Linked DNA regions of Homo sapiens. The protein of the gene in region 2 purifies or fractionates together with the protein of the main gene of each other region. This does not show direct contact. Each region holds a gene or a part of one and is shown on either strand. Other genes may lie near its edges. The genes, in order: UTP25, ZBTB49 and FBXL17.

Region 1 (3,654 bases), on a different chromosome or scaffold from region 2:
CATCTCTCCGTATTGAAGAAGCCTCATCTTTTTAGAATTTTCTCATTGAGTTTAATAGGATTCTAGAAATTTGATACTAATGTGGCCTTTAGAGATTTCTTAGTCAAACTCCCTTGTGTAATAGCGGGGGAAACCAAAGCCCCGACGCTTACTGTCACCGCTGGAACAATAACCCAGTCCTCTTAAATCTTGGTCCACCATCTCTGCAACTGTACCAAGCTGAGTCCACTGCACTCCTTGGGGCTTGAACATCAGGGTTATAAGGTTGTTTCCATTTAGAATTACATAGAAGAATAAGAGGCAGATTATCTATGAAACATATTATAATTTGGTGAATTACGTGATTTAACTGGGGTTATGTCCATTGTTTACAATAGGAAATTAGAAATTAACCATTTTTTAAGCATCTTCGGTTTTTATTCTCAACAGTAACTTTAAATATTTTTGAATATGCTTAGAAAGCTGAGTCCTGTTTTTCCCATTAATTGTGGTCATTTTTTTTTAGAAATGCTTTATTGTCATTTCTGAAACACTGTATAGAGAATGCACTAGAAATGTAATGATGTGTTAATCCTTTTTCTTACCCGCTTTATTTCTTCTCTACTTGTTCCATTTATTTATTCGACATGTATTTATTCACTGTGTCTTTAGGATAAAAATATTGCACTAATTCTGTGGGAGACACAGAAATCTTTCCCTCAAAGAGCTCATGTGTTTATGTCCTTGAGTTTTTACTGGTAGACGTATCTGTTAGAGGCATTGGCTTATTGTAAAAGGTATTTCCAAATTCTGCTTGAGAAATGTCTCACGTGGACTGATGGGTCTGAAGTCCGCAGGTCATGGTGCTGGGGTTATGAAAGGTGCTCAGTTTCTGGTGTTGAGCCAAGCCCTGCGCAAAGCGGGTAACATAGGTATGTTTCTTGGCTGGGGGCCACTGCTCTACATGGAGCTTTTTAGCTCCACTTCCTCAGCAGTTTCACCTCAAGATCCTGTTCCTTCCTCTTACCCCACTAAGGCTGCTGTTGCTGTCTGCACAGGTACTGATAGTGGTGCCATTCCGGGAAGCTGCTTTGCGGGTGGTGCAGCTCTTCATCAGCCTCCTCGAGGGTGACAGCAAGAAGAAAATCATTGTGAGCAACAAAAAGAGGTTTCAGGGAGAATATGGATCAGATCCCGAGGAGAGACCACCCAACTTGAAGAGGCCTGAGGATTATGAAGCCGTATTTGTGGGCAATATTGATGACCACTTCAGGATTGGTAATTCTTCCTTATCAACTTTGAGACCTAAAGTGTGAAGGTCTACATAGCTGGAGACCAGAAGCTGGAATTAGATATTTTCCCAGTGGATCACTCACTGTGCCTCTTTAACAGAACCAGTGTGCCTTTGAGACATGTTGTTTGCCATGGGAGAGTCTTGCCTTGGCTAATGGGGTGGACATTAGGCCAGTGGAGTCGGGAGGATCTCTGAGGCCATATATGAAAGGCACATGTACATTTATAACAGAAATTTATAGCAAGTTTATAACAGAAGTGTGAAAGCACACCCATAGCTGGTAGCAGATAGATGCTACAAGGGGTTCTCTAGGATGTTGGAAGTGATGGGGCTGATGGGGTCATTCTGGGGAGGCTGAATAAAATGACTGTCTCTACATAAAGGTGGACTTTCTCCTGTGTGCTACATAGATGCCTACCCTGAATAATCTCCACACATGACTTCCACCCAAATTTTCACATTTTTGCTTGTCTCTCATTCAGCTCCCATTGACTTTGGTTGGTTATACCTTTTATAGAGTAAAGTTCTTGGGGAAATGTTCATTAGTCACATATGCTCATTCACAAATACTTATTGAGTATCTACAGTGTGCCAGGCACTGTTAAGAAGCTGGGAATCTACAGATAAATATAGAAATAAAAGTTATAGTTCCCATTGCTAAGGAAATCCAGCCTACGACAGAGCAGGCAGTGCAGGATATGTGTGCAACGGTTGTTCTCGGAGCATTTAAAGCAAACCCCCTTACCCAAAATGGGGGCAGGGTGGTTAGGGAAGATGTCGTGGTGGAGGTGTCATCTGTACTAGGTGGAAACCTGTGTAGGATTCAGCCAGTTTCAAAGGGAGGTGGCTGAGTGGAGGAAAACATTTCAGACAGGAAACTGCCTGTTGCAGAGGCATCAGGGTGACTAAGCTTGGAATGACCTATGATTCACACAGGCTTCGGTATGGTGGAATGTAAGGCATAAGGAGACAAGAGCTCGTGTTTTGTTTGGAACATATATAGCTGTCCAGGAAGCAGTTGGTATATTGTTCTGGAGCTCAGGAAAAAGATATGGGCTGGAAATACACATTTGTGTGAAGGTGACATTAAAGCCATGATCAGTGAGTCAGTTAACCCAAAGCTTTATGCAGCACGAGAGCAGAGCTGACAAGTGAATCCACCAGTTTGCAGAAGAGTTATTTGGATCTGGAAGGACAGACAAGGGCCAGGTCAGTGATAGAAGCAAAAGTGAGAGTTGAAGTCATGGAAACTATTAGCAAGGAAAAGAGCATTGCAAGGCAGCTGTTAGTACATTCTGTGCCGTTTGTACTTTCCTCATAAGAAGCTCTCAAAAGTGTTCATCCTGTTGGTGACTGAGGACTGTGGGGACCTTAGCAAGAGTCATTTCTCTGGAGTCCTGAGAATCAGAGGCCGGATTGCAGTGGAGTGAGAAGTGAAGGAGAGATTTGAAAGTAGAGAGAATTCTCTGGAGCAGTTTGATAGTGACGGAAAGGAAGAGAAGGTAGAAGCTAGAAGGGACTATAGATGCAAGGGAGAGATTTCTCTTGTTCTTATGTTTTAATAATTAAAGCAGTTGAGCACAGTTACATGCTAAGAGGAACAAAAGAGATGTGGAAGCAATAGAAGTGGTGGACTGCTTTGAGAGGGTGGAAGGTAATGGCTTGGTAGTGACTAATGAATTGGTGTGTACTTGGCTGTTTTGTGTAGGAGTGGCAATACTTCAGAGAAGCATCCGACTCTATGCCCCGTTTTACTCCTCGGATATCCTCATTGCTTCCCCCCTGGGCTTGAGGACCATCATTGGTGGAGAAGGAGAGAAGAAGAGAGATTTTGACTTTCTGTCTTCTATCGAGCTTCTCATCATTGATCAAGCTGACATTTACCTGATGCAGAACTGGGAGCATGTCCTGGTAATGCTGGCCATTCACATTCAGTGGGACAGTATTCATATTTAGAGGGATAAGACACCCAGTGGTTTAAGTCCTAAAGAATTATTTAAGTCCAGATTAGAACTCTTGTTTGGAAGCAAGGACACACACTCCACATTTTCTAATTTGAAAAAGTCTTTTGTCCCCTTTTCTACCCAGAGATTGTCCATAATTAAACTGTCTACAGATTAAAATTCCTGTCAGTCATTTTCAAATCTCCAGAAAAGATTTCTTTCCCTTAAAATTTCTTTCTACTAACTTTAGGGTGGGTGGATGGGTGGATGGGATAGGTTGATGGATGGATGGGTCCTCACCAGGAACATCTTTACCTAACATAATCCCACATGTGGTTTTTGCTTATGCTGTTTTGTTTGGTCTTTGGTGAAGATGGGAATACCCTGCTCAAGATTTTTTAAGGTGGGATCTTGTTTTGTAGAGAAATATAGGATGTC
Region 2 (3,654 bases):
CTTCATTTCTCTGGGCCTGGGGCCATGTCTTCTCTCCCATCCAGGAGAACACCCAGCAGCCAGCAGATGCTCAGGAAGGATTTGATAAGCTGAGCTGAGTGCTCGTCCCTCCAGCCGCCATTCTTGATGAGCCTCCGCTTCTTCCTGCCAGCCTGGCCTGGGGTTCAGAGCTTGGCCTCTGGGGCTGGACAGTCTAGAACTGAGCTCTGCCTCTGTCAGGGCGTCACTACCCTGTGACTTTGGGCAGTCTCACCTTTTGCCCCTTCAGTTTCCTTATCTGTGAAACACGGATAACAAGATTAGTTAACCTCATAGAGTGTGAGGAGTAAATGAGGTAATAACGGAAAGTCCTTAGAGCAGGGCCTGGCACATAGTAAGCGCTCAAGAAACGCCAGCATTCCCTACCTTGTTGCCATCCGCTTTCTCCTCTCCTGTCCATCCTCATGACCCCCAGATGCCGGTCTTTCTGAGGCACCTCCCCGCCCCCACCGTTTTCATCTCAGCAGCTGTGGTTTGATGGGAAAAGCATGAGACTCGGACTAATGACCATGAATAATTAGCAATTGCGACTTCTCTGGGCCTCATTTTTCTAATTCTTAAAATAGGGATAATACTACTTCGTGGAACTAGTGGGAAAATGAAATGAAAAACTAGAGCTGAAAGCCCTTTATACATTTAAATTATGTTGAGAGTAGAAGTTCCATCCTTCTCATGCTTTCTCTGACTCTCCATAGCTGACCATATAAGTTAAAACCCGACATTCAGTCAGGCTGCAGTCCACCTCCACTCCTCTCTCCTGGCACGGATCCTTGGTGCCCACATCAGAGATTCTGATTCTGTGATTTGGAGTGGGGCTTAGGTATTGATGTTTTATTTATTTATTTATTTATTTTTGATGGAGCATCGCTCTGTCGCCCAGGCTGGAGTACAGTGGCGCAATCTGGGCTCACTGCAACCTCTGCCTCCCAGGTTCAAACGATTGTCTTGCCTTAGCCTCCCAAGTAGCTGGGACTACAGGTGCGTTCCACCACGCCCAGCTCAGTTTTTATATTTTTAGTAGAGATGGGGTTTCACCATGTTGGCCAGGATGGTCTCAAACTCCAGACCTCATGATCCACCAGGCTCAGCCTCCCAAAGTGCTGGGATTACAGGCGTGAGCCACCGTGCCCAGCCACGTATCAGTATTTTTAAAAATTCAGCAATTTTGGTGTGCAGCCAAGGTTGAGAACCACCACTATAGCTCTTGACCTGCACTTGCTCTCTTAAATCTTACCAAGGGTAGCCCTGCCCGATCCAGAAACCCTTCCCTTCTGTATTGGTCTGTGTACTTTTGTTAGGTTTCTGTGATTGTAGAGTCATACATAGTGATAGTTTTCAGATGTATATTGCTGCTTTATTTTCATAGTAAAGTATGAATTTTGATGAACAAGGAACTGTTTTAATGTTTGTTGCAAGCCTACAGTGTCCATGTGCTGTCCATGAGCTCTGCTGTGTGCCGGGAAGGGGGACAGAAATGGCCATGGCCTCCAGGAGCTTATTGTTTAGAGGAAGCAACAGACGTGTAAATGATCGAGTACAGTGAAATGTTGGAACTGCTGACAGTTATCTACGGGAACAGTGTGGGCAAAGAAAAGGCAGTAGTCCTTTCTACCTGAAAGGTGTGTTTGGGACAGCATGAGGCCATGAAATGCTTGAGAGATTGCTTAGGTGAGCCCTGCAGACAAGCAGGCACTGGGCAAGCCTGGCATCCCTGGCATGCTGGGGCAAGAAAGCAGTCAGATTGTCTGCATAGGGATGCGTGGTAAAGAATGCCCACCGGCCCATCCTCCACCGTATGCCTAACATTATTTTCTTGTAATGAACTAGAATAAATGTTTGTGGTTACATGGAATTGGAATGCTGTTGTATAAAAACATTTACAAATAAGAATCCCTCATCCTGCTTACTGAGAATTTAGTATTTAGTAGGTTAGTCTTTTTAAAATAGTTAACCGCAGCCTGCATTATGAGGATGGCATGCCAGCATAAGGAAGTTAGCATCATCTTAGAGTGACCACAGAAGCTGCATCTGTCCGTGTGACTGGACACTGTATGTGTCCAGATCTCTGCAGGGAAGAGTCATGTCATACTTTAACGGAAGAGTCATGTCCTACTTTAGAGTATGACTGAGTCGCAGTCAGAGGGAAGTGTTTCCTCTGTGGCGTAGAACATGGACTGTTTGGAGGGCACTGGAGAGAACCAAAAGAGTGACAAGTTTTGAGCGCTTGTCATTTGAGAAACGGGAAAGAAAATGCGGCGTAATTACCTGTCTTTGGGGAGAGGAGTAGGATTGCTTTTGTTCCTCCAAGTAGGCAGAAACAGAAACACTGGGCAGCTGGTACAGAGAGACGGGTTTTGAGAGGCAGTACTCTGCCAGCAGCGCCGTCTAGCCAGCTGTCTGCCCGAGTCCGGGGGTCCTAGTGCCTTCTGCAGGATTACCCTATAGGAGGCATTTCCAGGGTGCTGATGTGGACTCATGCCAGAGGTGACAGTGTCAGCCATCCATGGTGGAAACACAAAAATAAGGACACTTAGTGAGCTTGGCCCAAGCTATTACATTGTCATCTCTGAGGTTATATTTGCCACACCTTTACCGTTGAATGTCCTTTTATCAAAATAGCAGTCATTGTTTAAGTGATATCTCTATGTTAAACCTTACATTTTTTTCTTTTTAATTTTATCGCTGTGTGAAATCCTAAAGTCTTGAAACTCCTGAGCTAGCTGACTTTTAATATCTGGGATCTCTTTTATCTCTAAATGATTACGATTCCTGACTTTTTTTTGATATAAACACTCAACTGCCGTTAAGAGTGCTCATGATAGGGAATAGATGCTGGGTTTGTTCATGTTTAAATACTGAGGTTCAAGTACCTGTCAGAAGGAGTTTATTATAAAAATTGCTGAAGGCAGATGTTAATTCTTCTCTACAGCATAGTTTTTCTGTTAAAAATTCTAACTCCATTTGAAGGTAAAATGGTATTAGAAAGGATCAAAGTTCCTTTACTGCTAATATCGTTAACATAGGTTTAACAGTCCAAACTTTGGAGTCACTAGGCAAACCTGAATTAGTGAATTCAGTCCCCATTTTATGACCCAAGGCTGGTTACTAACCTCTCAGAGCCTCTGTTGACTTCTCTGTAAAACATGGATAATACTGCTTTACAAGACATTGTGATGACTAAGTTAAATACTCTTCGCAACGGTTTAGCAAAGAGCTTCATTCATAGTAAGTTCTTAATAAACGAGAGCTATTATTACCACTTGCTAGAATTTTTTTTTTTTTTTTGAGATGGAGTCTTGCTCTGTTGCCCAGGCTGGAGTGCAGTGGCATGATCTCGGCTCACTGCAAGCTCCACCTCCTGGGTTCACGCCATTCTCCTGCCTCAGCCTCCTGAGTAGCTGGGACTACAGGCGCCCGCCACCATGCCTGGCTAATTTTTTTTTTTTTTTTGTATTTTTAGTAGAGACGGGGTTTCACCATGTTAGCCAGGATGGTCTCGATCTCCTGATCTCATGATCCACCTGCCTCAGCCTCCCAAAGTGCTGGGATTACGGGCATGAGCCACTGCGCCCGGCCTACTTGCTAGAATTTTTATGGACACAACTATAGGTGATT
Region 3 (3,654 bases), on a different chromosome or scaffold from region 2:
ACATACAATTGACCTAGGAGAAAGAGCCTGGGAGAGAGTTTGTTTTTATTTTTGTTTTTGTTTTGAAATTAGGACAATCAGCCTCAGTGTATAGAAGGGAATTTTGAAAGCCGCATGCATGCCCAGGGCAGGACACTTGTTCAGGAACGACCTAAGAAGACTGTAAACTTTATCACTGTGTGCTTGCTAGGTCCAGTACAAGCAGGAAGTAAAGGCCAAGGCAGAGTTGTGAATGGTATGGCTAAGTCTTAAAGAAATATCCCAGCACAGAGCCAGTCTGCAAAGACTTGAATAAGTGCTTTTGTTTTTTGTTTTAGTTTTGTTTTTAAGCTTTGGCATCCAAGGAAATCTCTTTCAAAACACTGGCTGAACACAAGCTAAGCCTTGATTAATCAAAAATAGTGAAGCGTAGGGAAGTGGGGAGAATCTAATTTCCCAAGTTACCACATTATAATCTAATATTTTAATATTTAGTTTTCAACAATAAATTACAAGGCATGCAAAGAAAAAAGTATTACCCATTAAAACAAAAAAGAATAAATAGAACCCATTCTTGAGGAAGCCTGGACATTGGATTTACTAAAGATTTTACTAAAGATTTTAAATCCATTATCTGAAATATGCTCAAAGACATAAAGGAAACCATGGCCAAAGAAATGAAGGAAATTAGGAAAATAATGTATGAACAAATTGAGAATGTCAATGAAGAGCTAGAAATTATGGAAAGAACCAAATAGAAATTCTGGAGCTAAGAAGTACAATAACTGAAATAAAACATTTACCAGAGGGATTCAAGAGCCGAAGTGAGCAGGTGGAAGAAAGAAGATAGGACAATTGAATTTATTGAGTCTAAGAAAGAGAAAGAAAAAAGAGTGAAGAAAAGTAAGTAGAGCCTAAGAGATGGGTGGGACATCCATCAAGCAGAAAAACATTCACATTTTGCTAATTCCAGAAGGAAAGGAGAAATAAAAGGGGCAGGAAGAATATTTGCAGAAATAATGGCCCAAACTTCCGAAATTTGGTGGAAGATACGCATCTATACGTCCAAGAAACTCAATAAATTCAGGGAGGATAATGTCAAAGAGATATACACTGAGACACATTATAGTATAATTGTCAGAAGTCAAAGACAGAATCTTCAAAGCAGCAAAAGATAAGTGACTCATCACATACAAGCACTCCTCAATAAGATTTACAACTGTTTTATCATCAGAAACTATGGAAGCCAGAAAGCTGTGGGCTAACAATATTTAAAGTGTCGAAAGAAAAAAAAGTCAAGCAAGAATTCTGTATTTGTCAAAACTGTTAAAGAATAGGGGCACTCAAGGGGACATTAAGATATTTCCAGATAAGCAAAAGCTAAAGGAGTTTGTTACTAATAGATCTGCCCTACAAGAAATGCTAACGGGAGTCCTCCAGGCTGAAATAAGATGCTAGATGGTAATTGAAAGCCATATGAAGAATAAAGAAAACTGATGAAAGTAACTACATAGAGGTTGAAAGGATGGAAAAAGATATTCCACACCAGAAGAGAGCTATAATAGCTGTTTTATTATCCAAAAAAACCAGGTTTTAAGTCCAAAAGGGATCCAAGAGACAGAATTATTATATATTGATAAATATAAAATATTAATCTTTCAGGAAGATGTAGCAATTATAACCACATATGTACCTAACAACAGAATCCTTAAAATATATATAGCAAAAATTGAAAGACTTGGAGAGAGGAATAGACAGTTGTACATTAATCATTTGAGACTTAAGTAATTCACTTTCAATAATGAATAGCACAACTAGGAAGAAGATTAACAAAGAAGCAGAGGATGAACAGTACCATGAACCCACTGCACCTAGCAGATATGTACAGTACACTCAACAACAAAAGAATACACATTCTTCTCAAGTGCACATGGAACAGTCTCACAGATAGACCATATGTTTGATCACAAAACAAGTTTTATACATTTAAAAAAGATTGAAATCATACAGTGTGTCTTCCCTAACCATAATGGAATGAATCTGGAAATCAATAATAGAAGGAAAATTGGAAAATACACAGATATGTAGAAATTAAATAACAGAGTCTTGTACAACCAATGGCTTATAGAAGAAATTACAAGGGAAATTAGAAAATATCTTGAGATGAGTGAGAATGAAAACACAGCGTTCCAAAACTCAAGGGATGTAGCAAAAGCAGTGCTCAGAGGGCAGTTTATAGCTGTACAATCTTACATTAAAAAAGAAGATCTGAAAGCAGTAATCAAAGCGTACACCTTGAGAAAGAAGAGCAGGCTAAACCCAAAGTTCGTGGAGGGAAGGAAATAATAACCAGACCAGAGATAAACATGATAGAGGACAGAAAAGCTATGGAAAAAAATTATTGAAAACCAAACTAGGTTCTTCGAAAAGATTTTAAAAAACTCTGACAAACCTTTAACTAGATTGACTAAGAAAAAAGACTCAAATTATTAAATCATAAATGAAAGAGTAGACATTACTACTGACTTTATAGAAATTAAAAAGGATTGTATGAGAAAACCATGAATAACTGCATACCAACAAATTGGATAGGCTAGAAGAAATGGAAAAATTTCTAGAAATACAGAAACCAGAAAAACTGACCCAAGAAGTAGAAATTCTGAGTTCCAGCTACTCATGAGCCTGAGGCAGGAGGATTGCTTGAGCCCAGGAGGCTGAAGCTATATTCACTGCACTCCAGCTAGGGCAATATAGCAAGACCCCATCTCTTAACAAAAAAAGAAAAAGGTAGAAAATTGGAATATATTTATAATAAATAAGGAGATTGAATCAGTTAAAAAAATTTCCAATGAAGAAAGACTAAGGACCATAGCTTTGATGGTGAATGTTTTCAAATATTTAAAGAAGAATTAACACCAGTCCTTCTCAAACTCTTTCAAAAAAATTGAAGAGGAGGCAACACTTCTTAACTTATTCTGTGGGGCTAGCATTAGCCAGCCCAAGACCCTACAAAAATGAAACTACAAAACAAACAACAGCTACAGACAAGTATCTTTAACGAGTATGTAAAAATCTTCAAAATGCTAGCAAACTGAATTCAGCACCAGATTAAAAGGATTCTACACCGTAACCTACTATGATTTATCCAAGGAGTACAAGGGTGGCTCAACATACAAATATCAATCAATGTAATATACCACATTAAGAGAATGAAAGGAAAAAAAAACCAGTCATCTTAATTGGTGTGCAAAAGCATTTGGTGAAATAAGCAGCCTTTCTTGAAAAAGCAAAGCAAAACAAAAACCTATCAAACTAGGAATAGAGTGATGCTTCCTCATCATAATAAAGACCATATGTGACAAACCCACAGCTGACATATTCAGTGATAAAAGGTGGAAAACTTTTTCCTTAAGATCAAGAATAAGACAAGAATGCCTGCTTTTGGCAATCCTGTTTTACATTGTGCTGAAAGTTCTAAGGAGCAATTTGGCAAGAAAAAGAAATAAAATGCTTCCAAATTGGAAAGGAAGAAGTAAAACTATTTGTATTCGAAGATGACATTATTTTATGAATAGAAAACCCCAGAGAAACCACAAAAAACCCATTTGAACTAATAAGTGATTTCAGCAGAGTGGCAGGATGCAAAATCAAAATACAGAAAAATCAGTTGTATTT

The links.
Region 1: the proteins of ZBTB49 (region 2) and UTP25 purify together in Homo sapiens (affinity purification with mass spectrometry; one large-scale study listed by BioGRID and IntAct). This does not show direct contact.
Region 3: the proteins of ZBTB49 (region 2) and FBXL17 purify together in Homo sapiens (co-immunoprecipitation; one large-scale study listed by IntAct). This does not show direct contact.

Annotation. Positions count from the first base shown.
Region 1 is NC_000001.11:209,837,872-209,841,525, forward strand, and holds part of UTP25 (U3 small nucleolar RNA-associated protein 25 homolog), read left to right. Parts: intron 1-1,037; coding exon 1,038-1,257; intron 1,258-2,981; coding exon 2,982-3,184; intron 3,185-3,654. UniProt on the Homo sapiens protein: Component of the ribosomal small subunit processome for the biogenesis of ribosomes, functions in pre-ribosomal RNA (pre-rRNA) processing. Essential for embryonic development in part through the regulation of p53 pathway.
Region 2 is NC_000004.12:4,307,204-4,310,857, forward strand, and holds part of ZBTB49 (zinc finger and BTB domain-containing protein 49), read left to right. Parts: intron 1-3,654. UniProt on the Homo sapiens protein: Transcription factor. Inhibits cell proliferation by activating either CDKN1A/p21 transcription or RB1 transcription.
Region 3 is NC_000005.10:108,357,998-108,361,651, reverse strand, and holds part of FBXL17 (F-box/LRR-repeat protein 17), read left to right. Parts: intron 1-3,654. UniProt on the Homo sapiens protein: Substrate-recognition component of the SCF(FBXL17) E3 ubiquitin ligase complex, a key component of a quality control pathway required to ensure functional dimerization of BTB domain-containing proteins (dimerization quality control, DQC).